3 linked regions of the Homo sapiens genome follow. The protein of the gene in region 3 interacts with the protein of the main gene of each other region in a biochemical or structural test. Each region holds a gene or a part of one and is shown on either strand. Other genes may lie near its edges. The genes, in order: REST, CTCF and CELSR3.

Evidence for each region.
Region 1: the proteins of CELSR3 (region 3) and REST form a complex in vitro, tested with the Homo sapiens proteins (one study listed by BioGRID).
Region 2: the proteins of CELSR3 (region 3) and CTCF form a complex in vitro, tested with the Homo sapiens proteins (one study listed by BioGRID).

What each region holds. Positions count from the first base shown.
Region 1 is NC_000004.12:56,901,638-56,912,487, reverse strand, and holds the start of REST (RE1-silencing transcription factor), read right to left. Parts: upstream 4,589-10,850; 5' UTR 4,275-4,588; intron 3,579-4,274; exon of another isoform or gene 2,901-3,578; intron 1,859-2,900; 5' UTR 1,850-1,858; coding exon 952-1,849; intron 1-951. UniProt on the Homo sapiens protein: Transcriptional repressor which binds neuron-restrictive silencer element (NRSE) and represses neuronal gene transcription in non-neuronal cells.
Region 2 is NC_000016.10:67,605,453-67,615,904, reverse strand, and holds part of CTCF (transcriptional repressor CTCF), read right to left. Parts: intron 5,082-10,452; 5' UTR 5,073-5,081; coding exon 4,292-5,072; intron 3,955-4,291; coding exon 3,784-3,954; intron 1-3,783.
Region 3 is NC_000003.12:48,657,924-48,669,099, forward strand, and holds the start of CELSR3 (cadherin EGF LAG seven-pass G-type receptor 3 precursor), read right to left. Parts: upstream 4,964-11,176; 5' UTR 4,712-4,963; coding exon 964-4,711; intron 1-963. UniProt on the Homo sapiens protein: Receptor that may have an important role in cell/cell signaling during nervous system formation.

The sequences.
Region 1 (10,850 bases), on a different chromosome or scaffold from region 3:
CAGCTACTCGGGAGGCTGAGCCAGGGAGGCTGAAGCAAGATAATCACTTGAACCCTGAGGCAGAGGTTACACTGAGCTGAGATCTTGCCACTGCACTCCAGCCTGGGCGACAAAGCCAGACTGTCTCAAAAAAAAAAAAAAAAAAAAAGTTTCAACTTTTTTTATACAGTTGCGCTTAGTATCAGTTCAAACACCCTAAACATAATTGTCTGAAAAATACATTTTCTACAAGTGTTTGCTTTCATAGGAAAATAGTTTCAATTGGTGATAATCCCACCCACCTTTTAAAAACTACCTTCTCACATTTCTTTTTTGTGGACAAAGACAAGTTGTTCCATTTAGGAACTCAATGCTATAAGTCAAATGTTTTAAAGTTTGAGGCTTTTGTTAAGTGGGCATGTGCAAGGTTAATCACTGAGTTTTCCTTTTTATATAAGCCCTCAATTTCTTTCAGAAACTACACTGCATCTTAAATGTGTTCACTGTCACAGAAATAAATACACAAACTTTTTTTTTTCTGTTTTCTTTTTGAGACGGGGGTCTTTCCACGTTTCCCAGACTGGTCTAGAACTTCTGGGCTCAGGCAGTCCTTACGCCTCGGCCTCCCGAGGTGCTGGGATTACAGGCGTGAGCCACCATGCACGGCCAGTCTAACTTGCTGAAGGTAAACCCCAAGTTAGGATATGTACTTTAGTAAGACCACGGTAAGATCTCTTGGCTGTTCCTCTGTGCTTTACATGTAACTTCACATAATCCTCCCAACCTAGATATTGTTACTCCATGGAGAAATTTCTGAACAAAGAGGTTAAACAACTTGTGCAAGGTCACAAAGATAGCAAAATGGAACCTGGATTTGAACCAGAGTCCTTTTTCTCAAGCACTACTTAACTAACCACTCAAGTAACAATCAGAAAAGAGAACTGAACTTATGGACTAGAAAGCTTCTCTTACCTGTATGAGTTCTAACATGCTGAACATAATTGTTTTTTCTGTCTGAAAAATAGTTGCATTTTCCACATGTGTATACTTTCCTTGGAAAATGGTTTCTTAAATGTTTCCTCCAGTGATACTCGCTCACTGTTGTGTATGTGCAAATGATACACTTGTAGACTCGCTCATTATCCCCAGCTCTGGTGTGGTGTTTCAGGTGTGCTGTATAGTGATCATATCGATTAGTATTGTAGCCGCAGCGGTCACAGCGAATGGGGCCCTTGGAGAAATCTCCCTCTTCTGCAGTGGAAGAGCCAGATTCCCTGGCTTTTGCCTGCTTCTCTGCACTCTCTTCCACAAAAAATTTCTTAGCACTGTGAACTCTGATGTGATGCACAAACTGTTCTTCAGATTCTGCTTCATATTGGCATGGCTTACAGCGAAAGGGTTTGGTCTTCGAGCTCTTGCCTTTGTCCTCCGCTCCAGGTGTTTCAGGGGGAAGATCTTTATTTGAACTGTAAATATCTGGAGCACCTGATGCCTCAAATACAGGCTGAGGTTCTACGACGCTGAGTTCCAAACTTCTCAGTTCCATGTTTTCCAGTCCATGAGGTTCACCTTTTATATCAGCAGACTCTTCAAGTCCTTCTCCTTCTTCACTATCTGAAAAGTTGTTATCCCCAACCGGCATCAGTTCTGCCATCTGTCTTTCTTCACCGACCAGGTAATCACAGCAGCTGCCATTTACTTCCCCAGTTAAGGCCACATTTGCCAGCATAATAAGCTGAGGTGCGGCCAGTTCAGCTTTGGAAAGGTCATGCAAGTCATACATGTCGTTAGGCAGGGCCATTCCAATGTTGCCACTGCTGGTAAACAGCCCTCCTCCTCCAGAAGACTGCCCCATTACCTGGGTGGCCATAACTGTATTCTGAATTAAAAACAAAACAAAACAAGAGCACCAGTTTAAACACTACTGTTACTGGCTTAAAACCACATCGCTGTAATTCTTCATAACTTAAAAATTTTCCAGTATGATCTTTATAACTCAGTAAACTTCATCGCCTATTAAAAACAAATCTTTAAAATAGTTGTTAATTCCCAATAGTCTACTGCAATCACCAAAAAAAAATTTCTACTATCCCTATAAAACAATTCTACCAATTGTTTGCACAACTCATTCATCATTCAGCCACTGGCATGTGGTGCCTCCTCAAGCACTTTTAATTGTTCTGGTGGGGATAAAAAGTAACCTTCATTTTTACTGTTAAAATTATTTTAAAAATTCAAAACATGAGTAGTAAATTATTGTCCTCCCAACTTTTCCCCCCTTCAACAGTTCAATGGTCTGAATCAGAAAGCCCAGAAATCCACAAGCCATTCAGTGCATTTATTAAGTACACAAACACATCTGGAAAGTACAAGCCTGTAATAATTGTTCAACTTAATTGGATTTCGCATGAACTCAACTAACTCCAAAAGAATAAACTACTGTGAAAAAGTAGCAGTCAGCCCCTTAATTTTTCGACAACTCCACAGGCTTAAAAGAAAAAACATTTATGGACCCCTTTTCTTGTGAAAAAGGAAGTTTGATTTATTCAAAACTTCACAAATAAAAATTAATAAGCTTATTTTTCTGCAGGCTGAAGTTCCACAACACTGAATTCCAAGCTTTTCAATACGAATAAAATCATCGTGCAACTCAACTCGACAATCAGCAACTTTCTTGCATTGTGCTTGACTTGGCCTACTTGCCTAGTGGAAGCCATTACAAGATCACCTTCTTCAAAACAAGTTGGGCTTTCTAGATGCTACGTTACTTCTCAATCTAAAAGGTGCCATTCTCAAACGAAGTGTTCACTCGCAAATTAAAAAAAGTAAGAAGTTCTAAGAAAATAAAGTTAAACCGAAAATACAAAAAGTAACCCGCTTCACCCAAGTGTATAAACACAAACCGGTTTAGTTCTACGTACCAACAAAAGTTGGAAGCAAATGCCATCACAGAAAACAGAGGGCGAAGGCTGTCCCGGGGCTGAACAGCCCAAGCTATTGGGTAATTTGGCCCAACATCGACTTTTCTAATTGCTCCCTAACCCCTAACTGCCACCCCAAATGGAATTTTAACGATTGTTAGGAAGACCGTCCAGGCACAGCCCGAAAGCCCAACGTGCTGCACGAATTCCTCCGTGCTGCTGCCACCAGCGCCTGCCTCGGCGGCGGCATTCCTAACTGAAATAGGCATTCGGCCATTTTCTCAAAATACCAAACACAAAGCAGCTCTTTGCAAACTCGGGCGCTCTCGCTTCCTCTCGCCTCGGCCCGCTCACTGCACACATTTACACACCAACTCGCGGGAGTCGCCCCGACACTCGTCCTGAGCCTTTTCCTGCGCTCTCCAACACTAAAACGGGGGAGGGGATCAAGCTCGAGGCGCTGTTTGGCCGGAACCAGTCCTCCCCGAGTCCAGGCAGCCCCCTCCCCAGCCCTAGGGCCCCCGTCCCGGGAGAGGACGGAAAGTTACCGCGCAGCCGGCGTCCGGGCTTCTCCGACCGCCCCCGGGCCCCTCCGACCGCCCCGGGGCTCGCCCAACGCCCAGGGCCGGGGAGGCTCCGCGGGCGCCCTCGCGAGGCGTCGGGCTCCGAGCGCCGGAGGGGGCCCCCACACGGGCCAGCCGCCACCCCCGCGCCCCGGAAGTTTGCGAACTTCACTCCCCCACGGCGCCCGGCAGGACGCGCGCCCCAGCCCCGCCAGCTCCAGCGGTCGGGTGGCCGGACGCGGGGGCCAGCGGCGCCGGACGGCTGAAGCGCAGAAATCGCTGTCCAGCCCCGCAGGCGGAACCGCCCGGGCCCCGGGGCTGACTCAACCCGCCCGGCCGCACTCAACGGCGCCTTCCGGCGACAGGGAGAGGCCCTGGGGGAGGGGGCCAGGAGGGCCGCGGGCCGGCGCGGGGCTGCGGTGGGACCCGGGGGCAGGAGGAGGAAGCAGAGGAAGTTTCAGGACTACGGGCCCGAGCAGCTCCGCTCCTTGGCCTCAAAGGACCTGACTCGGTGGAGCGTCCGGGCCAGCGCGGAGGCGGCGTCCCAGCCTCCAGTGGGGAGGGGGTCCAGGCGACGCGCTGCTCCCAACAAACGCCCCCAGCCCCCGGGCGGCTGCTGTGTAACCCGATCCTGCTCGGCCGCCAGCCCCCGCCCGGCGGGGCCGCCGCCGCCGGAGCCACAGTATCTGCAAATCAGCCCTGGACAGCGCCTGACTCCGCGTCCTTCCGCGCCCTCCCCGTCCCGCCACTGCCGCCGCCCGGGCGGCCCTCCCCCACCCTGACCGAGCCCCCAGCCCAGCGCCCCACTTACCGGCCTTCCTCGGTGAGGAGGGGCGGGCGACCCTGAGTCGCCGCTCCTTCTCCGACTACTTTTCTTTGTTGCTGGAGTTTCGGGGGAGAGGTGGGGGAGGGTGGTAAAGTTGGGTGCTGGGGCCGTCGTGGACCAAGAAGGCCCAGGAGTGGGGCTGCAGAGGGTGCTCAGGCCTCCGGGCCTCGCCCTGCCGTCTCGGCTGCGGCAGCCGCCGCCAGGGTCTGGGGCCCCGGGCCTCGGCGGCGCTCGCTCCGCTGCTGCGCCGCGAGCTCGCGGCAGCCGCACATTCCAACACAGGACGCTGCGCCGCGCACCCAGTCCGCGCCGCCGCCGCCGCCACCGCCCGCGGGACACGCCCCCTCCGACGCCCGCGCGCGCCCGCGAGACACGCCCCCTCCGACGCCCGCGCGCGTGGCCGCTAGGCGCGCCCCGCCCCTCTACCAAGCAAGGAGTGCCCCAGTCTCCAGCTCGCCTGGGGGCGCGTCTAGGGGGAGCCGCCCGTAATCCTCCCGGCCCCTCACTCCTGCCCTTAGGTCAGAAAAGAGGCGGGCCCCACTCCCTTTCTCGATTTCTATTACAAACAAACAACAAAAGTTCCCCCCAGCCCTGGCGTGCATGCATGAGAATAGAGCTGTTAAAAGAAGAATCCGCAGGCTTTGACGGGTCTCTTTAGAGCTATTGTCACCGGCCTCTCAAGTCTAAAGCGCTCCAAGATACCCTTCAGATCTCTTCAAGTCTCCACCCATAGCTGTCCTTGACTAATTAAGCTTCGTTTTAAGCGTCTGCGGTAAAAAAAAAAAAAAAAAAAAAAAGTCTTCCAAATTTCAAACTACCGGAGGGGGAATGCAGTCAGTTTGGGAGAAGTGAGAAGAAAACGTTTCAGGAAGGAGGTTATGGACTCAGAAAGCGTGAGCGTGAGGACTGAGGGGACAGATCCCTAGACGTGGCAGGTAGCAGGTCATTGCTGAGCCCGGAAAGCACGACTGCAGGGGAGGAATTACCCTCAGATGACAGAAGAAAAGGTGGTGAGGACGGGGAGGCTGCCTGGGGCCACGGTGTGTCGGAGTAACCGGGCTCACGTCTATGAAGCGGGATAACCAAGCGGAATGCCTAGCCCATAGTCATGTGCTAACAAAAACAAAAACAACAAAAAAGAACAGAGAGAGAGTAATTCCACCCCCTTTCACACCTGAAAGAGCTTCTCAGTCTGCCTTTGATACCTTCCTAAACGTCAGTCGTAAGTCACACCTGTCCTCAGAAGCATAGTGGCTCCCCATGACTACAAGCTTAAAGCTTAAACCCCTTAGTGTGGCGTTCAAGCCCCTACTTAACTTGACCTAGATAAGTCTGACTATTGCTTGGTATTACAACATAAGTAGCAAGTGCTATGGGGGTTTGCCAGTAGGAAGATGGATCCCAAGAGGTTCTAGAAACTTTTCACAGTAGATGTATTCAGTCTGACCTTGGAGAATGAGGAAAACTTCAACAGGTGGAAAGTAGGGCAAGGAACACTCTACACAGTGAAAAGGGCAAGCTCAAAATCCCAAAGCAGTTGTTAAGACATCCCAGCTTCTCCTCAGGGTACCTCACTTCCTTCTCTTTGAAGTTCCTTTATTTGTTTCTCTTAGGGCAGGGCTTCCAGACTCTTCATTTCCTGGTATACCCACGTAGGACCTCTGTTTCCCTCTATCTGGACAATATATTACTAATTAATGCAGTCTCCGATGCAAGATGAAATGAAGACCCTAAGGTGCTCGACCACCAAAAGTTTCAATGAGGCAATTTCAAATGTAACACCTCTCCATGAATCAAACCTGAAAAGTATTCATTTTCATTGAACCAAAGAGACAGGAAGGAAGGGAGGGAGGGAGGGAGGAAAGGAAGATCGACATTTTTAGGACTGGTACAAACTTTTCTATATATATTTTATTTGTTTAACTAAAATCAAGTTTGAGGTCACATGGCTTTTTTAGATGCTGTAGCCCAGGGTACAATTCAGGCCTCTACCAAGGTTGTCAAAGACATAAACTTGTTTTCTTTCCCTTTTTTAGGTCCAAAAAGGCAAAAATGAAATGTCTCTTGTTAAACTTACTAAATGTCCTTCATTTCCTCAATCTGACTGCTTACTGGAAATGTCTTATTAATTGCAAATTTATTCCCACATATTGTGATGCAAATAGAAGAATGGCGAATGGGCAGCTGCATTCATTTAAAATTAGCAGAGGCCCTTGTTCAAGGGATGGCATATTCAGAGTGACCCAAATTATCATGACATGAAGGCCACAGGTCAAATTCATAGGCCAAATTACAAATCAATTGAAAATTTTCTTGAGGGAAGCTGTTGCTATGAACTTGAATTCCTAACTGTTTTTCAAAAGTCTGTATTTTACTTTGCTGTATCCAAACTTTAGGATCTTCTGCAAGATAAAAACTCTGAAATGAGAATGAGTTCTGCTTTTCTTATATGGTTTTTTTCCTGCATATTTAACTCATCAATTTTTTTATTTTAATTATCATATGTTCTTAATAGTATTTTCTCTAGAGAGATTTCTTTCTTTTTTTTTTTTTTTTTTTTTTTGAGACAGAATTTGGCTCTTTTTGCCCAGGCTGGAGTGCAATAGCACGATCTCGGCTCACCGCAACCTCCGCCTCCCGGGTTCAAGCAATTCTCCTGCCTCAGCCTCCCGAGTAGCTGGGATTACAGGCATGTGCCACCACGCCAAGCTAATTTTGTATTTTTAGTTAGAGACGGGGGTTTCTCCATGTTGGTCAGGCTGGTCTCGAACTCCCAACCTCAGGTGATCCGCCTGCCTCGGCTTCCCAAAGTTCTGGGATTACAGGCGTGAGCCACCACACCTGGCCAATTATATATATATATATATATTATTTTTTTTTTTGACATGGAGTCTTGCTCTGTCACCCAGGCTGGAATGCAAAGGTGCGATCTCGGCTCACTGCAACCTCCACCTCCCGGGTTCAAGTGATTCTCCTGCCTCAGCCTCCCGAGTAGCTAGGATTACAGGCACGTGCCACCTTGTCTGGCTAATTTTTGTATTTTTAGTAGAGATGGTGTTTCACCATGTTGGCCAGGCTGGTCTTGAACTCTTGACCTCAGATGATCCACCTGCCTGGGCCTCCCAAAGTGCTAGGATTACAGGTGTGAGCCACCCCGCCTGGGAGTCTTGCTCTGTCGCCCAGGCTAGAATGCAGTGGCAAGATCTTGGCTCACTGGAACCTCTGCCTCCTGGGTTCAAGCAATTCTCCTGCCTCAGCCTCCCGAGTAGCTGAGATTACAGGCACCCGCTAGGACGCCCAGCTAATTTTTGTATTTTAGTAGAGATGGGGTTTCACTATGTTGGTCAGGCTAGTCTCGAACTCCTGACCTGAGGTGATCCACCCGCCTCGGCCTCCCAAAGTGCTGGGATTACCTGTGTAAGCCACCGAGTCCAGCCAGCATCATCTACTCTTGCTGCCGGTTGGACTCTGACCTCTTGTTCTGGTTCTGATAACTGGAATAGTGTCTTACTCATTATAGGCATCAACAGCTTGAGCCAGGGAGGTTTTCCCTTCATGCTGAGAAGGGAAGGAGGTGAACAAGAGAACTTGAGACTTGAGCTGGGCTCCTTCCTGCCTTCTTTTGGAGCCTAGATCACATTTGGAACCCGCTCCCATTTTCGTCCAATCCTAATGCCCTTCCCTGCTGTTTCTGCTCCCATTTTCGTCCAATCCTAATGCCCTTCCCTGCTGTTTCTGTCTCTAACATTTATTACTAACATGCTAGGTATTTTTATTTATTTACCCTACTTAGGAACTTAAGCTCCAGAAAGGCAGAGACATTTTTTTATCCCCAGCACCTATAACTCGTTAGTTGCTCAACAAATATTAGTTAGATGAATGGTTACAAAATCCTAGCTTGGTATCACAATCTCTCAAAGTGGGGACCATCCTTACCCATGTCGGTACCCAACGTTCAGTACCCATCACAGTCTTCCCTCATGTTAAGCATGAGCCTGCCTCCTTGAATCTCCCTAATAACTACTGTTAAATAAATTAATGCTCCTGGATCCCTGGTCTTGGGGTTCTACCCTCCTGGTGAAAATCTCCCTGCCTGCTCTTCTGCATATTGTATTCCTAGCACATTCCTGATTTCACGCATCAGCCTCTGGTTGGATATTCCTTGGTGATCATTAACAATCTGTTTTGGCCAGGTGCGGTGGCTCACGCCTGTAATCCCAGCACTTTGGGAGGCTGAGGCAGGCAGATCACCTGAAGTCGAGAGTTCTAGACCAGCCTGACCAACATAGAGAAACCCTGTCTCTACTAAAAATACAAAATGAGCTGGGCATGGTGGCACACGCCTGTAATCCCAGCTACTTAAGAGGCTGAGGCGGGAGAATGGCTTGAACCTGGGAGGCGGAGGTTGCGTGAGCAGAGATCGTGCCAGTGCACTCCAGCCTGGGCAACAAGAACAGAACTCCATCTCAAAAAAAAAAAAAAATGTTTCAACCTTAGGTATCGTTCCATTTGATGGGTTTAAATACAAGTTACATAGCCTATCAACTGCATTGCTCTGCCTCTCTCTTCTCTGGCCTTTACCATTGTCCTTCCTTCCAGAATTCTCCCTCCAAATGTTATGTAGGCCACAAAATGTCACAAATGCAAGAGATCTTAGAGGTGCAGGCTCTTGTTTTATATGTAAAAGGAGACAGGCCTACAAGCTTTTGGCTTGTCCAGGTTTGCACAAGTAGTTAGGGCACAGATGGAGGTAGGACCCATGACTCAATTTCCAGCCAGTCCGGTGCTCTTTCCATGTCTCTCAGACACTTTGTCCAGTCTTCTTTCTGCTCTACCCTGGCCCTATTCCCGAAAACATCTTTTAATCTTTGGGGCCTGATGGGCCACTATGTACAATGGCTTTAGAGATGTATATATTTGAGATAGGGGGACTTTTCAGATCCGCAATTCCATAACTCTGAAGCCTACTTTTTATATTAAGATTAATTACCTTCTGGGCCAGGCCCAGTGGTTCACGCCTGTAATCCCAGCACTTAGGGAGCCCGAAGTGGAAAGATCACTTGAGCCCAAGAGTTCGAGACCAGCCTGGGCAACACAGTGCGACCTCATCTCTAGTAAAAATAATTTTTTAAAAATAGCTGGTGTGGTGAGGTGTGCCTGTAGTCCCAGCTACTTGGGAGGCTGAGGTAGGAGGATTGCTTGAGTGCAGGAGATTGGGGCTGCAGTGAGCCAGGATCACACCACTGCACTCCAGCTGGGTGACACAGCAAGACCACGTCTCGAAAAAAAAAAAAAAAGATTTATTACCTTCTGGCTTGGGAAGCAGAAGCCCTTATTGTCTTCCATGGCATTTAAAACACTCAAGAGCCAACATTGACATGTTAATTTACAAAGCTAATCATCAATTTAGAGGAATATGGACTTGACTCAGAAGACAACTTCTGGCAACCTTTCCCTTCTTCCCAAGGAGAGGTTAAAACCTTCCCACATGAACTCCTAAAGTGCCATAAGTATACTCTTGCGCCTGTTTTCTTTCCCATGTCTTTCTCATCTGTCTGAGAGGGTCTAGAGACAAGAAACTGTGTTGTGTGTTCTCAACATGCTGATATTCCTGACACAGTAAATAAAATCAAACTTCTGGCAAAGTGTATCAACCCAAAGCTAAAGCCAGGCACTGGCTTTATGCATAAATGTTTCCTAGATTAATGAACCTGTACATTTTCCTTGTTTGTCTAAAAATTATCACTAAACCTACTAGAATGGCTAAAAGTTTAAAAAGCTAAGTATAAAATGCAACAAGGGCTGGGTGCGGTTCTCATGCCTATAATTCCAGCACTTTGGGAGGCCAAGGGGCGCAGATCACTTGAGGTCAGAAGTTCAAAACCAGCCTGGGCATCATGGCAAAACCCTGTCTCTACCAAAAATACAAAAAGTTAGGTGTGGTGGTGTGCACCTGTGATCTCAGCTACTCGGGAGGCTGAGGTGGGAAGATCACTTGAGCCCAGGGGGTGGAGGTTGTAGCAAGCTGAGATCGAAACACAGCACTTTACAGCCGGGCACAGTGGCTCCCACCTGTAATCCCAGTAGTTTGGGAGGGCGAGGCGGGCAGATCACGAGGTCAGGAGATCGAGACCTTCCTGGTTAACACGGTGAAACCCTGTCTCTACTAAAAAGTACCAAAAAATTAGCCAGGCGTGTTAGTGGGCACCTGTAGTCCCAGCCATTTGGGAGTCTGAGGCAGGAGAATGGCGTGAACCTGGGAAACGGAGGTTGCAGTGAGCCAAGATTGCACCACTGCACTCCAGTCTGGGCGACAGAGCGAGACGCCGTCTCAAAAAAAAAAAAAAAAAAAAACAATGCGACAAAGATACTGAGCACCTGGAATTCTCTCTCTCTTTTCCTCTCTCTCCCTCTTCTCTCTTGAGACAGGATCTTGCTGCATCACCCAGGCTGGAGTGCAGTGTCATGATCTCAGCTCACTGAAACCTCTGCCTCCTGGACTCAAGCGATCCTCCCCCTTCAGCATCCCGAGTAGCTGGGACTACATGTACGACCTACCAC
Region 2 (10,452 bases), on a different chromosome or scaffold from region 3:
ACAATTAGGAAGAGCCACAATGTAATGAATAGAACCAGCCATCTGCAGAAATGATTCTCTTTGAGAATGAAGAGAATGCTGGAGAGGAAGAGTGACTGGAGTATAATAAAAACTAAGCAATTCCAAGGAATGTTCATTTGTTCATTCGATTCTTTAGAACCACTATGGATCTAACGGTAAAGCACAGAGTTCTTCCTGTGAAAGTGTATAGTCTGGTGGTATGGATAAGAAGTAAAACAATTAACAAGAGAAGAAAAGTGGCATCCAATTTTCTTTTCGTTTTTTGTTTTTGAGCCAGGGTCTTCCTCTGTTACCCAGTGGGAGTGCAGTGATAGGATCAAGGCTCACTGCAGCCTTGACTTCCCAGGCTCAAGTGATCCTCCTACTTCAGCCTCTCCAGTAGCTGAGACTACAGGCTTGCACCACCATGCCTGGCTAATTTTTTCTATTTTGTAGAGATGGAGTCTTGCCACGTTGCCCAGGCTTGTCTCAAACTCCTGGGCTCAAGCAATCCTCCGGCCTCGGCCTCACAAAGTCCTGAGATTACAGGTTGTGAGCCACCATGCTTGGTCTTCTTTTAGAACAAAGTAAGCTAAAAAATAAATGCTCGTGTTTACCTAGTACTATCCAGGGCAGAGAAAGGCCTGCATAAGCGTGGCAATTAGCAAAGAAGTGGACACTGCTGTGGGGCAGGGAGTTCCATTAGGCTGTGCCACATGACCACCTACATCCCTTCACTCAAGGCCCATCCTCTTTTTTTTGAGACGGAGTCTCTTGCTCTGTCGCCCAGGTTGTAGTGCAGTAGCATGATTTTGGCTCACTGCAACCTCTACCTTCCAGGTTGAAGTAATTCTCTTGCCTCAGCCTCCTGAGTAGCTGGGACTACAGGTACATGCCACCACACCTGGCTAACATTTTTTTTTTCTATTTTCAGTAGAGACGGGGTTTCACCATGTTGGCCAGGATGGTCTCGATCTCCTGCCCTTGTGATCCGCCTGCTTCAGCCTCCCGAAGTGCTGGGATTACAGGCATGGGCCACCATGCCTGGCTTTTTCTTGAGACCGAGTTTTGCTCTTGTTGCCCAGGCTGGAGTGCAATGGCACGATCTCAGCTCACCGCAACCTCCGCCTCCTGGGTTTAAGTGATTCTCCTGCCTCAGCCTCCCGAGTAGTTGGGATTACAGGCATGTGCCACCACACCCGGCTAATTTTGTATTTTTAATAGAGACAGGATTTCCCCATGTTGGTCAGGCTAGTCTTGAACTCCTGACCTCAGGTGATCTGCCCGCGTCAGCCTCCCAAAGTGCCAAAGTGCTGGGATTACAGGCGTAAGCCACCACACCCGGCCACCTGGCTAATTTTTGTATTTTTAGTGGAGATGAGGTTTCATCATGTTGGCCAGACTGGTCTCAAACCCCTGACCTCAAGTGATCCACCCGCCTCAGCCTCCCTAGGTGCAGGGATTACAGGTGTGAGCCACCATGCCCAGCCATCAAGGCTCATCCTCACCAAGTTAGCTTTCAATTGCTACAACATCTTTTTTTTTTTTTTTTTTTTTTGAGATGGAGTCTCACTCTGTCGCCCAGGCTGGAGTGCAATGGTGCGATCTCCACTCACTGCAATTTCTGCTTCCTGGATTTAAGCAATTCTCCTGCCTCAGCCTTCCGAGTAGCTGGGACTACAGGCATGCGTCACCACGCCCGGCTAATTTTTATATTTTTAGTAGAGACGAGGTTTCGTCATGTTAGCCAGGCTGGTCTTGAACTCCTGACCTCAGGTGATCCACCCACCTCGGCCTCCCAAAGTGATGGGATTACAGGCGAGAGCTACGGCGCCCGGCTGCTACAGCATCGTAACAGAGGCAAAGGCGCCCCCTAGAATGCAATGCAACTGCATCTGGAACATGAAAAGGTATACTCCTCACCATAAACTGATACTCTTGGTGTATGCATCTGCTCTTATGGGTTTTGTTGGTATGAATCAGTCTTGCCAAATCTGCTGAGTAACCAGATAGACTGTACCTCTTACTTTCAAAGCTGAAGACCAGATAGAGAATGCCCACACCAAGGCACACCCATCTTGGGAAGTCCTGTTATGGGGCCATTTATTTATTTATTTATTTATTTTGGTGAGGCAGAGTCTTGCTCTGTCACTTAGGTTGGAGTACGGTGGCACAATCTTGGCTTACTGCAACCTCTGTCTCCCGCATTCAAGTGATTCTCCTGCCTCAGCCACCCAAGTAGCTGGGTTTACAGGCGTGTGCCACTACACCCAGCTGATTTTTTGTATTTTCAGTACAGAGGCGGTTTTGCCATGTTGGCCGGGCTGGTCTAGAACTCCTGGCCTCAGGTCATCTACCCCCCATTGGATTTCCAAAGTGCTGGGATTACCCAGTTACTTTTATTTAGTCATATGCCCCATCCTAGTGTCTTCAAAGTATCAAATAAAACATATTATCAAGTGTCTGAGTAGAAATTAGGGAGATGTTTAAAAGTAAGTCACATTAGTGAAGAATGTGCCCATGTGCAGCATACTGTTTATGATTAACACCCACTTGATCATGGTCATCTGACAACCAGCACAACAAATCTAAAACAAGGGTTGTCATTAGAAATTTTTAAAAACCTAAAAATCAAAAACAAGAGTTGTCATATGAAATGAAGTTATTCTGCATGAAAAACCATGTGAGAAGACTTGCAACCAACTTCCTACACTGGGATAACAAATAGCTCAGGAAAGCTTAAAGAGAGGTTTAGTGCACAGAGTCCCTCTACTTTAGAGACCTCAGGGAACCTGGCCACAGCCAACATGAAGCTAATATCAGAATATCTGAACACTAAAGTAAGTAGGATGCTCAAATAAATGTTTGAATTATCAGAATGGTGCCTTAGCTTTTCCATTCTGAAATTATGAATTATCTTCCTTGACGTGAAACAACCAGAAACAAAAAATGTTAAGGTTTGTTTTTGAGATGGAGTCTCACTCTGTCGCCCAGGCTGGAGTGCAGTAGCACTATCTCAGCTCATTGCAGTGTCTGCCTCCCAGGTTTCAAGCGATTCTCCTGCCTGAGCCTCCTGAGTAGCTGGGATTACAGGCACCCGCCACCACACCTGGCTAATTTATGTATTTCTAGTACAGATGGATGTGATTTTGTCACGTTGGCCAGGCTGGTCTCCAACTTCTAATCTCAAGTGATCTGCCCACCTCAGCCTCCCAGAGTGTTAGGATTACAGGCGTGAGCCACTGTACCCGGCCACTTTTTTTTTTTTAAATAAAGGTAGGATTTCACTTCTATTTCTTTTCTTTTCTTTTTTTTTAGACGGAGACTCGCACTGTCGCCCAGGCTGGAGTGCAGTGGTGGGATCTCGGCTAACTGCAAGCTCCACCTCCCGGGTTCACGCCATTCTCCTGCCTCAGCCTCCCGAGTAGCTGGGACTACAGGCGCCCACCACCACACCCAGCTAATTTTTTGTATTTTTAGTAGAGACAGGGTTTCACTGGGATTTCACTTCTATTTCTAACATTCTTCCTCATAGTACCAGGCATCTATTGCCTGAGACTTCTTTTTTTTAAGAGAGAGGGTGTTATTTTTCATTAAATTTTCTTTACATTTGTCTATAATAACTAAGTCCAAGTGCTTACAATAAAATCATGATTACAAAAAGGGCATCATAAGAAATAATAAAAACTTCCTTTAAATTCCCGCTGGAGTCAGCTTGAATGAATACTAAAAAGCGAAGTCTGAGCATTTGCTGTTGTAGCCCCCAACATTCTTATCCAGCACCTGTGTGTGTGTTAAGGTGATTCCTCAGGAGGGTGACTGTTCTGAATGCCCTGCCACAGAGATGGCACTTGTGTGGTCTCTCATCAGTGTGGCTTTTCATGTGACGATCCAAATTTGAACGCCGTGGACACGTGTAACTGCAAAGCTCACACTGGAATGTCTTCTTTACACCTATGTGCAAAATAAAACACTTACTTGCTGCAGAGTTTCAAAGTGTTAAGATTAATCCTAATCTTAAATTTCTACAAATATATTTGATTAGCTTTTAATAACAAAACCCAATATAAGTCATAATTATCTCATGTCACTAATACATTTCCTTCTTCTTTGGGATTAAAAAAAGAGCATTCAATCTGGAAAAAACTTATTTTAGACTGGTTTTAAAGAACGGTACCCACATAACGACCTTTTACAAATACGGTTAATATAAAACAACTTGCATATGCACTGTGTTGTATGCTTATCCCAAAATGGTTTTATGAAACCACTATGGATAAACTCGTTTTACCTTTCTTTTTAATTTTTGTTGGCTTTGGAGGCTTCATATTACCAACCACTTTCTCTGCATTAACCTCTGATAGCAGACCCTCCTGCTGTTCTTCCTCAAAATCGTAGACAGACACATCTACATCTTTGCCCTCCTCTGTATAACGCAGTTTGCTCTTTTTGGTTTTCTTTGTTTTTTTGGCTGGTGGCTGATAGTCTGGGTCTTTTTGCCAACTAGGATCTTCCTGGGGTGGAAGTTCCCCTTGTTCTAGTGTCTCCACCTCTCCATTGGCCCCCACTTTAACCACCTGAAACCCTTCAGGCAAAGGTAGGGTGTGGCATATCATGGGTTCACTTTCCGCAAGGCCCTCTTTAGACACTTCATTTTCATAAGCCCCCTGAAGTTCTTCTACTGAAGTGGTAGCAACAGGTACAGTCACAGGAACAGGTACTTGAACAAGCTGAAGTTCTCCTATGTTTATGGGCTGTTCCTCCATATTTACAACCTGTAAAGTTATAATCTGGGTATCGTCCACAGCAGCCTCTGCTTCTGGAGCCACTGTGCCCTCCATTACTTCAGTCTTCATCTGAAGAAGGGTGGGGTCCAGCTGTTCCATCATCACCATCTGTACACTGCTGTTGACATCCTGGACCACCTCACCCCCATCCGTCTGGTTCTGGGGTAAGTGGCAGGCATCTTCTTCCTGGCCCCCTTCCCGGCGTCTCTGGTAAGTCTTTCTCTCCTTTCCTTTAATAAAAGTTTCGGACTCCTCCACAATGGCTTCGACTGCATCACCTTCCATTTCCCCTGCCTTTATTAAGGGAGAACACAGATTGTTATTTAAAGCAAAGCATGTCTAAATAAAAATATACATTTTAAAACAAAAAGACCCTTTGGTGAATGAATTAGGCATCAATGGTTGTTAATATTAAAAAAGACACAACAGACATGTGCCTCTTGATGAAAGAAACAACCACTACTGGCCAGGTGCAGTGGCTCACGCCTGTAATCCCAGCACTTTGGGAGGCTGAGGCGGGCGGATCACGAGGTCAGGAGATCGAGAACATCCTGGCTAACACGGTGAAACCCCGTCTCTACTAAAAATACAAAAAAAATTAGCCAGGCATGGTGGCGGGCGCCTGTAGTCCCAGCTACTCGGGAGGCTGAGGCAGAAGAATAGCTTGAATCCAGGAGGCGGAGCTTGCAGTGAGCCGAGATTGCACCACTGCGCTCCAGCGTGGGGGACAGAGCAAGACTCCATCTCAAAAAAAAAAAAAAAAAAAAGAAAAAGAAAAAACCACTACCTATAATGCAATTTTGTCAAACAAACTCCAAAACTCTGAAACCAATCAAGTCTCTAGATCCAACCCAATTAACAGGAAATTGGTGACTCAGGATGTTAAATTATACTACAGGGATTAAATCAGTGAAATCCATACCGAGGGAAACACTGCAAGATTATACTCAGGTTCTTCTGCAAATAGATAACAAGAAGAATACAAGGGAAGACTGATTGGAGGGAGAACCAGTAGATCAGTAGTTCTCAGCCTGGGGTGACTTTGCCTCTAGGAACATTTGGCTAACACATTTTTGGTTGTCACTACTGGGCTGGGATGTGCTACTGTTATCTCGTGGGTGAAAGCTAGAGATGCTATTAAACATCCTCCAAGACACAGGTCAGTCCTCCACCACAAAGAATTATCAGGCCAGGCCGGGCACGGTGGCTCACGCCTGTAATCCCAGCACTTTGGGAGGCTGAGGCGGGCAGATTACCGGAGGTCAGGAGATCGAGACCATCCTGGCTAACACGGTGAAACCCCGTCTCTACTAAAAAATACAAAAAAATTAGCCGGGCGTGGTGGTGGGCGCCTGTAGTCCCAGCTCTTGGGAGGCTGAGGCAGGAGAATGGCGTGAACCTGGGAGGCGGAGCTTGCAGTGAGCCAAGATCGCGCCACTGCACTCCAGCCTGGGCGACAGAGCGAGATTCCATCTCAAAAAAAAAAAAAAAAAGAATTATCAGGCCCAAGATGTCAAGAGCACTGAGGCTGAGAAACTCTGATACAGATAAAAGAGTCTTAAAGAGACAGTAATCAATCACAATGCATGAATCTTCTTTGGATCCTGATTCAAACCAATAAATGGTGAAAAAGATGTGACACAAGACAATTAGAAATTTCAACTCTGGATATCTGATGATATTAAAGAATTACTAACAAAACTAATTTAAATCTTACACATGTAGTGGGGAAGACACTGGTAAAGGACATATAATTTCAGTGGGAATAAGTTCAAGAGATCTATTATACAACATGAATATTACAGTTAATAATAACGTATACCTGAAAATAACTGAGAGCAGATTTTTAAGTGTTCTCATCACAAAAAATGACAAGGATGTGAGATGATGCATATATGAATTAGCTTAATTTTCTGCAATTATGGGGTCTTGCCACATTTCCAGACTGGCCTTGAACTCCTGGGCTGAAGCAATCCTCCCACCTAAGCCTCCCAAAGTGCTGGGATTATACATGTGACTGAGCCACTGTGCCCGGGTCTGCCAATGTTTTGTAAAAAGCTTTATTAAGGTAGCTTTATTAAGCACGTGGTGGCTCACGCCTATAATCCCAGCACTTTGGGAGGCTGAGGTGTGTGGATCACCTGAGGTCGGGAGTACGAGACCACCCTGAACAACATGGAGAAACCCCGTCCTAAGTAAAAATACAAAATTAGCCAGGTGTGATGGTGCATGCCTGTATGTAATCCTGGCTACTTGGGAGGCTGAGGCAGGAGAATCGTTTGACCCGGGAGGTGGAGGTTGCGGTGAGCCAAGATTGCGCCATTGTACTGTGCAGCCTGGGCAACAAGAACGAAACTCCGTCTCAAAAAAGAAAAAAAAAAACACTAAATACACCTCCAAAATTTCCTTGTATTTTGTTTTTGGTGATAATATTTATCATGAGATCCATCCTCAACATAATTCAAAGTGCATAATGCTATACGATTAATACAGGAACTATGTTGTGTAGCAGATCTCTAGAACTTACTCATCTTGCATAACTGAAACTTTATACCCACTCAACAGCAATTCCCCATTTTCCCCACCCTGTCAAGGGTTTTTGACCTTGTTTTTTGAAGCCAAACTCAGAACTTAGATCCAGACTGCAATGGCCGTGTTTGTAGACACTGCACAAAACTGCCCATGTCATACCATCAACTTGACATTCACCTCTCTCCTGACAATGAGATCAGGAATTCCCTGAGAATAAGAACCACATCTAACAAGTCGTTTTTTTTTTTTTAATTTTTTTTTTGAGACGGAGTCTCGCTCTGTTGCCCAGGCTAGGGTGCAGTGGCACGATCTCCGCTCACTGCAAGCTCCGCCTCCCAGGTTCACGCCATTCTCCTGCCTCAGCCTCCCGAGTAGCTGGGACTACAGGCGCCCACCACCATGCCCGGCTAATTTTTTGTATTTTTAGTAGAGACGGGGTTTCACCATGTTAGCCAGGATGGTCTCGATTTCCTGACCTCGTGATCCGCCTGCCTCGGCCTCCCAAAGTGCTGGGATTACAGGTGTGAGCCACTGCGCCCAACCGGTTTTTACTTTTTTTTTTTTTTTGAGTCGGAGTCTCGCACTGTCGCCCAGGCTGGAGTGCAATGGCGTGATCTTGGCTCACTGCAACCTCTGCCTCCCAGGTTTAAGTGATTCTCCTGCTTCAGCCTCCGGAGTAGTTGGGATTACAGGTGCCCACCACCACACCTGGCTAATTTTCTGTATTTTTAGCAGATACGGGGTTTCACTATGTTGGCCAGGCTGGTCTTGAACTTCTGACCTCGTGATCTGTCCGCCTCGGCCTCCCAAAGTGCTGGGACTACAGGCGTGAGCCACCACGCCCAGCCACGGTTTTTACTCTTTAGCACTGTGCCCAGGATGGTAAGTACTCAATAAATGCCAACCAAATTGAATATATAATAGAAAGCAGAAAACAAATCAGCCAATTCATAGTTTTTGGCTCTTATATCTTGTGAATGGGCCGGGCACGGTAGCTCACGCCTGTAATCCCAGCACTTTGGGAGGCCAAGGCTGGTGGATCAGTTGAGGCCAGGAGTTCAAGACCAGCCTGGCTAACATGGCAAAACCCCATCTCTACTAAAAATACAAAAATTAGCCAGGCGTAGTGGTGTGCACCTGTAATCCCAGCTACTTGGGAGGCTGAGGCACGAAAAGAACTTGAACCCTGGAGGTGGAGGTTGCAGCGAGCTGAGAAAGTGCCCCTGCATTCCAGCCTGGGCGACAGAGTGAGACTCGGTCTCAAAAACAAAAAATAAAAAACAAACAAAAATCTTGTGAATGACATTACCTAAACAAGAGTAAAATAGGGGCCAGGCGTGGTGGCTCAGGCCTGTAATCCCAGCATTTTGGGAGGCCGAGGCGGGCAGATCACTTGAAGTCAGGAGATGGAGACAAGCCTGGCCAACACGGCAAAACCCCGTTTCTATTAAAAATACAAAAATTAGCCAGGTGTGGTGGCACATGCCTGTAATCCCAGCTACTCAGGAGGCCGAGGCAGAAGAATTGCTTGAACCTGGGAGGTGGAGGTTGCAGTGAGCTGAGATTGGGCCACTGTACTCCCTCCAGCCAGGGCAACAGAGCGAGCCTCTGTCTCAAAAAAATAATAATAATTAAAATAAAATAAAACATATATAGCTGAGTGTGGTGGGGTGTGCCTCTAATCCCAGCTACTTGGAAGGCTGAGTGAGGCTCGAGAATTGCTTGAAGCCTGGAGGCGGAGATTGCAGTGAGCCGAGTGCCACTGCACTCCAGCCTGGAGCCTGGGCGATAAGAGTGAAACTATGTCTCAAAAAAAAAAAAAAAAAAAACCCAAAACAAAACATTGAAGTGTTTTGTATTTTTGGCCAAGAATACAGCTCAAACGAAGCTTTTGTTAGTTCTATTAGACACACTTTTCTCCAATTCTCTGTCTAGGCACCTTAACATTGTATTATATCCATGATAGCAGTCAGAGAAGACTCCTTAAGCCAGGACCACCTGAGAGGCAGCACAAGAACTACTACAGAGAGAATGACATTACCTAAACAAGAGCAAAATAGGGGCCGGGCGTGGTGGCTCACGCCTGTAATCCCAGCATTTTGGGAGGCCTGGTCCTACATTCTAGGAGTTACTGTCTAACATAAAGGACAAAATAGGTAGCACAATGGTTCAAGGTGAAATTACATAGGTTTGGAGAAAGATAACATAACCAGGTGTGATAGAAAAATGCTTCATAAATGTGGAATTTGAACGGAACCCTGAAACGTGAGCAGGACATTTAAAGGCAGAGTTTGACAGTGGAGGGCAGAGGATGTATTCTGTAGGGGAAAGGTTTGGATTTCTGGGTACAATAAATACATGTGGGAATTAGTTATGAGTAAGAAAAAGAACTGGCTTAAAGCACAGGACAGAGGAGAGGGTAGTAAGACAGGTGAAAGATGTGCTGGTTGCCCCCCATAGTTTGGATGGTCTTGAATAACAAAATACCTCAGATGACTGGCAATGGAAAACCACTTATGCTTTCTGGGCAGAGAAGTAAAGATTCACTCATTTCACAAAGAAGAAGACTTAATTTCCTCAAAAAGTGTGTCTCTACTTTTGCAAAAACTACATGATGCACTTACCACCCTTCTGGCTCACAAAGCCCCTTCGTACCTGACCCCATGATAACCTATTCAGATTTATGTCTTGCCCTCTAGCACTCTCCCCTTCAGTCAAGCTGTCTTTTCATCCAGACACAGTTCCTACTGTCATCTCCCTGTCTTCACTCTGTACTTTACGTCTGATCCACTCCTCTCAACACCAGCTCATCCCTGGCACAACAAAGCTTTCTGAGGTTCTTGTGGCCACTACTTTGCTCCAAATGTGTTTCTGATAAAATAAGGACACAGTTTAGCACTTAAAATTTTCTCAAAACGATCTATTTTCCCAGTTGGGTGTGAAAGCTCTTTAAGGGCAAAAGCCGGGCTTGAAGCAACATATACTTTTGGACAGATTCAGCAAACCCCACCATCTGCCTGGAAAAAAACAAGGCTCAAGGTAAACTCCCGAGGTTGTTGGATTGCCAGTTTGGTTTATTCTTCCATTACCTTCTTTCTTTCATTAGTCCCTTGTTCTCAACAACCAAGAGAAA
Region 3 (11,176 bases):
CCAGAATCCTGGGTTATCAAGCTCCAGGGGGGTCTTGAACCCTGACATACACACACACACACACACACCAGCATTCTTGAGTTAGCAGCCTGCTCGCCACTCCAGACCTGGGTCCTGTGGTTTCACAGTGACCACCCCAGAGATGAAGGTGAGGTGCTTAGCTGCCTTGTTCGTCTTGTCCCCACACCCTAGCACATACTGGGTGGTCAATAAGGATAGACTGTTGAGTGAGTTGAGGGATAAATGAAGGTTGTGCCTTCTCAGGCAGTGCCAGGAGTCCCTGCTCCAGAACTGAGGAATGAGCACCAGTGAAGCCTATTTCCCAACCTCTGCAGCCTCCAGTAGGCAGAACTTCAAGAGCCTCTCCCACCTGCACTCTCCTATTATGGAGGGGTTTCTGAAAGACTGGAGCAGATGGGGCAGGAAAGAGGCAAGTGGACCTCTGGACATTTTCCCAAAGGTCAGGGTCTCAGGCCCTACGAAGCCACTGTCCACCTGAAGCTTCCATAGTAAGCTGCTGTTCCTGACCACTCAAGTATTGGTCATTTCCTGCACAGATAGGGTAAGCGTCAGACTGGACCCAAAGTAACCCTTCGTCTGAACATGGGCATAGTGTGGACTGACTGGCCCATACTGGCTTTGCCTAGGACCTCCAGAGGATTACCCCAGGACCTCTGACCTTTTATCAGGAGGGGAGATATCCCTAGGTAGCAGACAGTTCTTTACAGGCTTTATGGGGTCTGCTAGATGCCTTGGAATCACTGGGATTCTGTGGAGATTATCCAGGAACCTAAGCAGAGTCCTTGTGAGGTCTGTGGCAGATCTTGTAGGGTGCAGGAACCCTACCCTTAAGGGGTTCTTGGAAGGCTTAGAAATCCCTCTTTGGTTTGAGGTGCCCTGTGGAGTCCCTGAGGCCCAACAGGTTGGTGTCACTGGGTCACTTGCCTGCCCCCTGCCCCTCACCTGTGACAGTCACCAACATGGAGGCCACCAGTGGGCGGTTATTGTCTAGCTTTCGGCTGAGTCGCAGCTCCCCACTGGTCTGGTTGACTACCAGCAGCTGCAGCTCATTGCCACGCTCAAAGGAGTAGAAGAGGTGGTCGGAGACATCGGGGTCATAAGCTGGGATGCGCCCAATAATGCCCGACGGGAAGGTGTCTGAACGGTTGGATACATAGTTGTTGAAGAGGATCTGGAAGTTGTTGAGCACAGGGCTGTTGTCATTCTGGTCAACCAGGCGGACGTGCACAGTGGCCCGGCTGACCAAAGGAGCAGATGTGGCCTGCACCACAATCACATATTCTTGGCGAGCCTCATAGTCTAGGTCAATGAGTGCCGTCAGTTCTCCAGAGAAGATGTCCATTTGGAACAGCTCAGGGATGTTCCCCTCCACGATCTGGTACATTATATGGGCATTGGGGCCTTCGTCAGGGTCCACTGCAGTGATCTGGGCCACCACTGAGCCCACAATGCTATTCTCTTTCACCCGCACCTCAAACTCCTCAGCTGGGAAGACAGGTGCATTGTCGTTCACATCCTGCACCATCACCTGGATACTGACTGGAGTCCGGAGTGGGGGCACACCTCTGTCCACTGCGTAGGCAGTCAACTCATACACTGATACTGCCTCCCGGTCTAGCCGCCTTACTGTACGGACAATTCCAGAGGTGGGCTCAATGGTAAAATCTCCATCCCCATCTTCACCATTCTGGAAAGTGTACTGGACCCGGCCATTGGCATGAGCATCCCGGTCAGTGGCTGAGATCTGCAGGACACTGGTGAAAGGTGGGGCATCCTCAGAGACCAGCCCTGTATAGTGGGAGGCCACAAATTGTGGAGCATTGTCATTCACGTCATTGACCATCACCTCCACATAAGTAGTGTCTGCCTTCTGTGGGATGCCATTGTCCCGAGCTGTGATAGCCAGGGTGTAGGTCACCTGGTCCTCATAGTCTAATGGGGCCTGTAATGTAATGGCTCCTGAGTCTGCATCAATGCGGAACTGGGGCAGGTTGTCCTCCAGGAGATAGGTGATACGAGCATTCTCACCCACGTCATCATCAGAGGCACTGATGACCACTATGGTGCTACCCATTGGCCGATCTTCATTCACACTCACTGAGTAGTGGGCACTTTGAAAGACCGGCCGATGAGTGTTGGCATCTGTGATGTTGATGTGCACATAGCAGTGATCATGAAGGGCACGGTCAGATGCAGTTAGTACCAGCTTGAAGTAGCGTTCCTGCTTGTAGTCCAGTGGCAGAGCCAGAGTCACCAGACCCACACCCCCCTGGGTGCTGATGGCAAAGCGATTCCGGGTGTTGCCGCCTGTGATCTGGTAGCTGATGGCACTGTTGGCATCACGGTCTACTGCGGTCACGCTGACCACACTGGTGCCCACAGCTGCATCCTCATTCAGTCGTAGGTGGTACTCCTTCATTGTGAACTCAGGCCGATTGTCATTAACGTCCAGCACAGTCACGGTGACACTGGCTGAGGCAGAGAGTGGGGGTGAGCCATGGTCTCGAGCCTCCACACCAAAGAAGTAATGCTCCACAGACTCACGGTCCAGGGGACCACTCACAGAGACCCAGCCAGTGGCGCTGTTTATCACAAAAGGAGTATCAGGTGCCACACCAGTTAGGGAGTACTCCAATCTGGCATTCTCCCCATGGTCTGCATCGACTGCCTGAATGTGGATGACTGAGTGACCCAAGGGAGCATTTTCCAAGACAGAAACTTGGAAGGGCGTGCTGACAAAAATAGGAATGTGGTCATTGATGTCCACCACCTGGATGCTGGCCAGGCCCGTGTTGTTGGACAGCGGTGGCCGGCCAGCATCCTGCGCCCTGATGCGCAAGGCATACTCTCTCTCTGCCTCGAAGTCCAGAGGTGCCACCACCTGGATCTCGCCAGTGAGGCTGTCGATGGCAAAGTGTCCACGGCTATTGCCACTGATGATGTTGTAGTGCACCAATCCGTTGGCGTCCTTGTCCCGGTCAGTGGCCGTGACGCGCAGCACGACTGTGTGGGGGCGCACATCCTCGCGCACCTGCGCCACGTAGCGCTTCTCGCTGAACTGAGGAGCATTGTCGTTCTCGTCTAGCACAGTTATGTGTACGCGCACAGTGGCCGAGCGCGGCCCGGGTTCCTGGCCCTGGTCGCTGGCTTCCACCACCAGCTCATAGCTTTCCATGTGCTCGCGGTCCACTCGGCCGCTGGTGCTGATGAGGCCGGAGCGTGGATCAATCTCGAAGGCGGCGGCAGCTGCAGCGCGCGCAGCTGGCGGCCCCACGAAGCGGTAGCGCAGGTTGGCGTTGGGGGGCGCGTCGCCGTCAGTGGCACGCAGCTGCAGGATAGGGTAGCCCTCCTCCACATTCTCGCGAAGGGTCTCCCGGTACTGCGCTTGCTCAAAAACCGGCGAGTGGTCGTTGCGGTCGGCTACTGTCACGGCCACCATCGTGGTGGCCGAGAGGCGCGGCGACCCGTGGTCCTGCGCGGTCACACGCAGGTAGTGACGCTCCATGCTCTCGCGGTCCAGAGCTGCCGCCGTACGGATAAGGCCGCTCTGCGGGTCGATGCTGAACAGCTCCAGCGAGCGGCTGTTCATGAGTGCCGCCAGCGAGTAGACTAGGCGCCCGGCCTCGCCGGCGTCCGGGTCCTGAGCAACCACGCGTAGCACCGCGGTGCCTGCTGCCTCATTCTCCGGCACCAGCGTCTGGTAGTTGTACTGCGGAAACTGCGGGTGGCGGTTTGCGGCGCGACGAAAGCGTGCCCGGTTCGCCGAGGTTACTTTCCTGGCTTCAGGACGGGCCGGGAGTCCCGGGGGACGCGGCCCGGGGCGCTGCGGGAGGAAGCGGCAGCGGAAGAGACCCCGGGAGCGCATGCGCTTGGGCGCCGGCTCGGGAGCTGTCCGAGACTCGCGGGGTGCTGAACCTGATGCAGGAGCTGTCCTCGCCGTGCGTGGTGCTGAATCCAGCTCGGGGCCAGATCCCGAGGCCCCTGGAAGACAGTTCCGCCGGGGGGCTGTCCTTTCTGCTCCGGATGTCGTGGCTCTCTCGCCCTGACCCTTGCTCCCTGTTGCCCATAATTCCCCACAGCAGCGCGCGGTGCCCACTCTTTTGCGGGAGCCTGTCCCAGCGTTCCGCTGGGAGGACACCGGCTTGGGACCGTGGTGCCGAATCAAAAAGTCTGAAGGGAGGGGCGAGCTGTTCCCCGAGCCCGGGACCCCTGAGGACAGAGCCCCTGGTGACAGACTACCTCTTTGCAAAGGTCCTGTCCGCCCGCAAGAGGAGACCTCTGGGCGCCAGTATAACACAGACCCTGGTCCCTGTCCTGTCTCTCGTTCGCGGCTGCCCAATGGCTGGACGCCGTGTTCAATCCCCAGCTCCTCATTCGGCTGCTCAGGGGGCCCTCGACTATTCCGGGCGCTTTGCCTTCTCCCTCGGAGCCCCACGAAGATAGGCTCCCTGACCCCCAGGCCAGGCCCCCCATCCTCCCGGACCCCGGAAGACTCCGGACAAAGAGCTAAGGCTCCGCCACCGATATGCGCCCTTGGCCCCGTAGTGGCAGCTAAGCCTGGGTCCCAGCCCTGGTGCCCACCGCCCCCCAGCTCCTCCTGGCTGAGGGGGAACAAAGAGAGGAGAAGGAGCAGGAGTATGGGGGTCGACCGTCCCCCGAGGCCCCGCCACGGCGGCCGCCTCGCCATCATCCCCCGCCTCCCTGCACGGCCTCCACCGCCCCCCGCCCCGGTCCGGGCCTTGGGCTGGCCCCGCCGCTCGGGCCCCCTCCCGGGCCCCTGCCGCCGCCCCGGGCCCCCGCCCCTCCGCCTGTCTCTCCGCACCCCCGCCGCCCTCTGGGCACCATCTACTCCGCGGCCGGAGCCCCTCCGGCGTGCGGCCCTGGCTTTTTCCGCCCCCACCACAGCATCCCCGACGCTGCTGCCGCCTCCCGCCGCTCCAACATGGCTCCCGGCCGCCCCGATGGTTCGCTCCACCTCTGCCCCGGCGCCCGAAACACGGTGGTACAACCCATCGCGCATGGCAGCTCTGAGGACCGAAGATGTTGCCGCCATCTTTATTGAGGACGTGAGCGTTGCTCCTGGTGCTGAACAGAGCGCGAAGGTTCGCCGTCGTTGGGTCCGCCCTCCCCACTTTCGGTCGCCGCCTTCACCCACCTCCCTCCTTCTAGGGCGCTGTCCCAGCTCCGTCTCCCAGCCTTTTTCTGTCCTTCCAGATCTCTTGTTCCCCCTTCCTGACCACTAGTTCTGAACCGTGTCCCGGATTTTGGTCTGAAATTTTGGTGCCCATGAGCGTTCTCATAGCTCTGGGAGGGGGTACTGTGTGAAATCCTGGGGTAGAGGGGACGATGGCTGGAGAGGGGTCTGGGGTGCCAGCACCCCGAACAATAGCTTTAACTATCCCATCAGCTAGTTTTATGAAACATGTCGCGACCACCTGCTTGTTTGGATCGCCCCTGCGGAGCAGGGACCAGAGATGACCCTCCCGAGGCGGGAGCAGAGGCCAAATTCTTCCCTGCCTTGCTGGTCCCCAGCAGTCTCCCGGGCTCGGGGCCCCTTCACTGGAGGCTGCACCCCCTCCCAGGCTGCGAGTCCCGAGTGCTCTGGGATGCCACGTGGAGCCCGGCGTTGCCCCATGGCTGCGGGCCCCGCTTCTTCGGGTCCCCGCCCCTCGTCCGTCACGACCGCATGCCTTAACCCCTTGAAGGGACTGACACAGAAACTCAGTCCTCCCCCCACCCTCGGTGCATTCCAGCTCTCCCTGCGTAACTCCTGGCACGCGCCGGTCTCGCCAGGCCAATGGGTGGACCTGGCGCAACAGACGTCACGAGAGGAGCGGAGGCGAGGGGTGAACGCGGAGCACTCCAATCGGTCAGTCATTGTTTCTATTGGCACAATGGGAGGCCCCGCCCCTCACGGCGGACTCATCGCATGGGGGAGGGGGCTCCGCGGGTTGCCGGCTAACCGTGAGAGAGTCCGGGAGGTACACTATACGGACCGGCCTCCAAAGGCGGAATCGATAACGAGCTGCAGCGCCGGGTGCAGAGGACGCGGGCATCCCGAAGCCCAGGAAGAGGTCAGGGCCGGGACCCCAGAACGCTCCACAGGGTGCGGCTCCCGCGATGGGGTGGATCCTGGTTCTAACAGGCGAGGAACTCCTGGCCAAGGCCTCTGGCCCGCCCCGAACGGTCCCTATGACATCACCATCAACCAATCAGTCGGCGCATCCTTTCGCCCCTTGACTGCTCCGCTTCCGGGAGGCGGGGCTTCTGCGGGTTCCACCTCCCGAGCGCCCCTTGTGGCTACCAAGGTCAGGCAACAGGTGTCCAGTTGTTCCCTCTCCTGTCTACGAATCTGAGGACCTCCCCAGGATCAGAGCTCTGGGCCTGATACACGGCCGGGGTTCCTACGGGTTTGTGAGTGGGGGTGGAAGATCTGCAGAGGCACTTAGGGCTGAACTCCTTTGAATGGGAGCCAATCGGTGCAGGGGCTGGAGGAGCGAGTCCCCCAAAGTAGTTTTATTTATCTATTTAGAGACAAGGTCTCACTCTTTCGGAGTGCAGTGGTGATCACAGCTCACCGTAGCCTCGAACTCCCCAGGCGATTCTCTCACCTCAGCCTCCCGAGTAGCTGGGACTACGGGTACATGTCATCACACTTGGCTAATTTTTGCATTTTTTATAGAGACAGGGTCTCACCATGTAGGCCAGATTAGTCTTGAACTCCTGGGCTCAAGCAATCCGCCCATCTTGGCCTCCCAAAGTGCTGGGATTATAGGTGTGAGCCACCGCGCCCGGCAACCCAGAAGTGGTTTTGACAGCACCAGCGCTTTCTGTGTCCACAATCTAGTGAGTAGAGGGCACAAAACCTGACACCACGGAGGCAGACAGGCAGGGGCTCTGCCGGGGAAGGGTGTTGGAGTCCCAAAGGAGGCGTCTGAGTCACCTTCGCAACCTGGGACGCCTTCTTGCATAAGATGCCTGAGCAGTGCCTTGAATGACCAAGGGGAGATCCGCATCTGCAAAGGAAGGGCAGGGAGGGATAGGGATTGGGGGTGGGCATCCTAGGTCTTGGAGACTGTGTGGGCAAATGTGCAGAGACATAAAGGGACTATGGCTGAGGGAAATCAAGCCCTGCCCTCTCACCAATAGGGCTGGCGCTGGTCCCAGCTAACACTCCTTTTGGAGAGCAAAGCTCCTCACTTCTGAGTAGTGAGATTGATTGCGGATCACTCTCCATGTTGCTGCCTGCTGTGTGTCATCCCACTGTCATCCTCCCTTTGTGGCTGTTCTGTGGAGCCCCTCTCCCTCAATCTGCACTCACCTCTATGCCCCAGCCCCATTGGCAGCTCCTAATGCACTCCCGGTAAAAAAAAAAAAACAAAAACCAGATGTTAGTGATAGTGGTGGTAGTTCTTCTCTCCACCTCCAAATCTTGCCCTTGCCTCCTAATAAGACCCCTATGTGGTTTAACCTCATTTTTTTTTTTTTTTTTTTTTTTTGAGATGGAGTTTCACTCTGTCACCCAGGCTGGAGTGAAGTGGTGTGATGGGGCTTCACCATGTGATGGGGCTTCACCATGTTGGCCAGGCTGGTATCAAACTCCTGACCTCTAGTGATCTGCCCGCCTCAGCCTCCCAAAGTGCTGGGATTACCGGCATGAGGCACCGTGCCCAGCCTATCCTCCTTCTCTTATCAGCTCCCAACTAGAGGTCCACCCAGGACCCAGAGACCTGGATTTGAGGCTGCTGGGCGGCAGATGGAGCGATCAGAAGACCAGGGTAAGGGTGTGGCAGATACTGCCACTAACACTTCTCAGCCTTTCCTTCTCCTGCCTTTTCCACCCCACCCTGTGTTTGTCTACTCCCAGCCAGGTGTACCTTTCCAGGGGAAGACCTGGCCAACCTGTCCAGCTCAATTATCCAGCAGTTCTTTGACCTCACTGAGATCTCGAGTCCATTGTTCATCACCTCAGCTATTGACCTGTGTCATTAGCCTTATAGAGTTCAGTGCCACGGAAACTCCCTGCCCTGTTCTTTTTCTTTTTCTTTTTTTTTTTTTTTTTGAGACAGAGCCTTGCTCTGTCGCCCAGGCTGGAGTGCAGTGGCGCGATCTCGGCTCACTGCAAGCTCTGCCTCCCAGGTTCACACCATTCTCCTGACTCAGCCTCCCGAGTAGCTGGGACTACAGGCGTCCACCACCATGCCCAGCTAATTTTTTTTTTTGTATTTTTAGTAGAGACGGCGTTTCACCGTGTTAGCCAGGCTGGTCTCGATCTCCTGACCTTGTGATGCTCCCGCCTCGGCCTCCCAAAGTGCTGGGATTACAGGCATGAGCCATTGTGCCCGGCCTGCCCTGTTCTTCTTAGACAAACTTGCTGGGCTAAAATCTAACCCCGTTAAAATAGACTATTTACGTATTGTTTGCCTCTAGCGCAGCAGAACATTGCTGGAGAAAAACAAACAACCGTGCTAATTGGTCTCATTTTATATTCATGACCACAAGCCTCAGTATTATATCGGAGGGCCTATCCAGTGCAGTAGGGCAAGAAAAATAATAAGTTATGAAGATTGGAAGGGAAAAAAAACTAATTCACAAGCAGTAGGATTGTATATGTAAAAATTTCAAAGGAACCTATAGGTAAGTTGTTAGAATGAGTTCAGCAAAGTTGTTGGACACAAGATCAATATATAAAAATCAGTTGCAATTTCTATATGTCACCAACAGTTAGAAAATAAATTTCTTGCCTGGGCATGTTGGCTCAAGCCTGTAATCCCAGCACTTTGGGTGGCCAAGGCGGGCAGATCACCTGAGGTCAGGAGTTTGAGACCAGTTTGGCCAACATGGTGAAATCCCGTCTCTACTAAAAATACAGAAATTAGCCGGGCGTGGTGGTGGGCACCTGTAGTCCCAGCTACTGAGGAGGCTGAGGCAGGAGAATCACTTGAACCTGGGAGGCAGAGGTTGCAGTGAACGAGAAAAAAAAATTTTTTTTCTTAAAAACAATGATGTTTACAATAGCATCAAGTAATATCAAATGCTGAGGAATAAACCTAATGAAAGATGTGCAAAGACTACATACACACATACAAAAAAACTATAAAACATTATTGAGGGAAATAAAGACATAGGCCTGGCATTGGTGGCTCATGCCTGAAATCTCAGCACTTTGGAGGGCCAAGGTGGGTGGATCATTTGAGGTCAGGAGTTAGAGATCAGTCCGGCCAACATGGTGAAACCTCATCTCTACTAAAAATACAAAAAAATTAGCTTGGCCAGGTGCAGTGGCTCACACCTGTAATCCCAGCACTTTGGGAGGCTGAGGCGGGCGGATCATGAGGTCAGGAGATCGAGACCATCCTGGCTAACACGGTGAAACCCTGTCTCTACTAAAAATACAAAAAAAAATTAGCCGGGCCTGATGGCGGGCGCCCGTAGTCCCAGCTACTCGGGAGGCTGAGGTAGCAGAATGGCGTGAACCTGGGAGGTGCAGCTTGCAGTGAGCCTAAATTGCGCCACTGCACTCCAGCCTGGGTAACAGAGCGAGACTCCGTTTCAAAAAAAAAAAAAAAAATTAGCTGGGCATGCTGTTGTGCACCTGCAATCCCAGCTACTCTGGAGGATGAGGCAGAAGTGCCTGAACCTGGGACACAGAGGTTGCAGTGAGCCAAGATCATGCCATTGCACTCCAGCCTGGACAACACAGCCAGACGCTATCTGAAAAAAAAAAAAAAAAAAAAAGTAAAAAAAATGAGAAATAAAGACATAAATAAAGTGAAAAATTGTTCCAATATTGGAAAAGTCAATATTATAAAGGTGCCAATTTTCCCAAATTGATATATGGATTCGATGCAACTTCAGTTAAAAATCCCACTAAATTTTGGCTGGGTGCGGTGGCTCACACCTGTAATCCCAGCACTTTGGGAGGCTGAGGCGGGCGGATCACAAGGTCAGGAGATCGAGACCATCTTGGCTAACATGGTGAAACCGTCTCTACTAAAAATACAAAAGTTAGCCGGGTGTGGTGGCGGGCACCTGTAGTCCCAGCTACTTGGGAGGCTGAGACAGAATGGCGTGAACCTGGGGAGGCGGAGCTTGCAGTGAGCCAAGTTGACGCCACTGCACTCCAGCCTGGGCGACAGAGCAAGACTCTGTCTCAAAAAAAAAAAAAAAAAAATCCCACTAGATTTTGTGTGTGTGTAAACTGACAAACTAGATTTAGCAGCCTGAGCAACACAGCAAAACCCCATCTCTACAAAAAATACAAAAATTTTGCACATGCCTGTATAGTCCCAGCTACTTGGGAGGCTGAAGTGGGAGGATCATGTGAGCTCTGGGGAGGTCGAGGCTGTAGTGAGCTATGATCACATGCTGCACTCTAGCCTGGGCAACAGAGCAAGAGACCCTGTATCTAAAAAAAGAATGAAAATTAAAAAATAAAAAGAAACCAAGATTGTGTGGTACTGGTACGAGGATAGGAAGACTAAAGGAACGAAATCCAGAGACAGGCCTGAAGATGTGTGGAAACTTGAATTTTGACAAGGGTGGTTCTTCAGAGCTAACATGAAGAAAGGGTTGTTTTCTTTTTTTTGTTTCCCCAGGAGCAACTCTATTAACTGAAAGAATAGGCTTTTCAATAAATGATGCTGGGTCAGTTGGATATCCATATAGAAAAAATTAAATGAGATCTCTATTTCACACTGCTTGCATAATCAATTCCATATAAATTTGACATCTGAAAATATACAGTTTCTAGAAAACAGTATTAAGACCTTGTTTTGTTTTTTGTTGTTGTTGTTTTTTGTTTTGTTTTTTGTTTTTTGAGACAGAGTCTCGCTCTGTCGCCAGGCTGGAATACAGTGGTGCAACCTTGGCTCACTGCAACCTCTGACTCCCTAGTTCAAGCAATTCTCCTGCCTCAGCCTCCCGAGTAGCTGCGATTACAGGCACATGCCACCACGCCCAGCTAATTTTTGTATTTTTAGTAGAGATGGGGGTTTCACCATGTTGGCCAGGATGGTCTCGATCTCCTGACCCTGTAATCCGCCCACCTCGGCCTCCCAAAGTGCTGGGATTACAGGCGTGAGCCACTGCACCTGGCCAAGAGAAGATCTTAAAGGTGACTTTAAGCAAACTTTTTTTTTTTTTTTTTTACAGA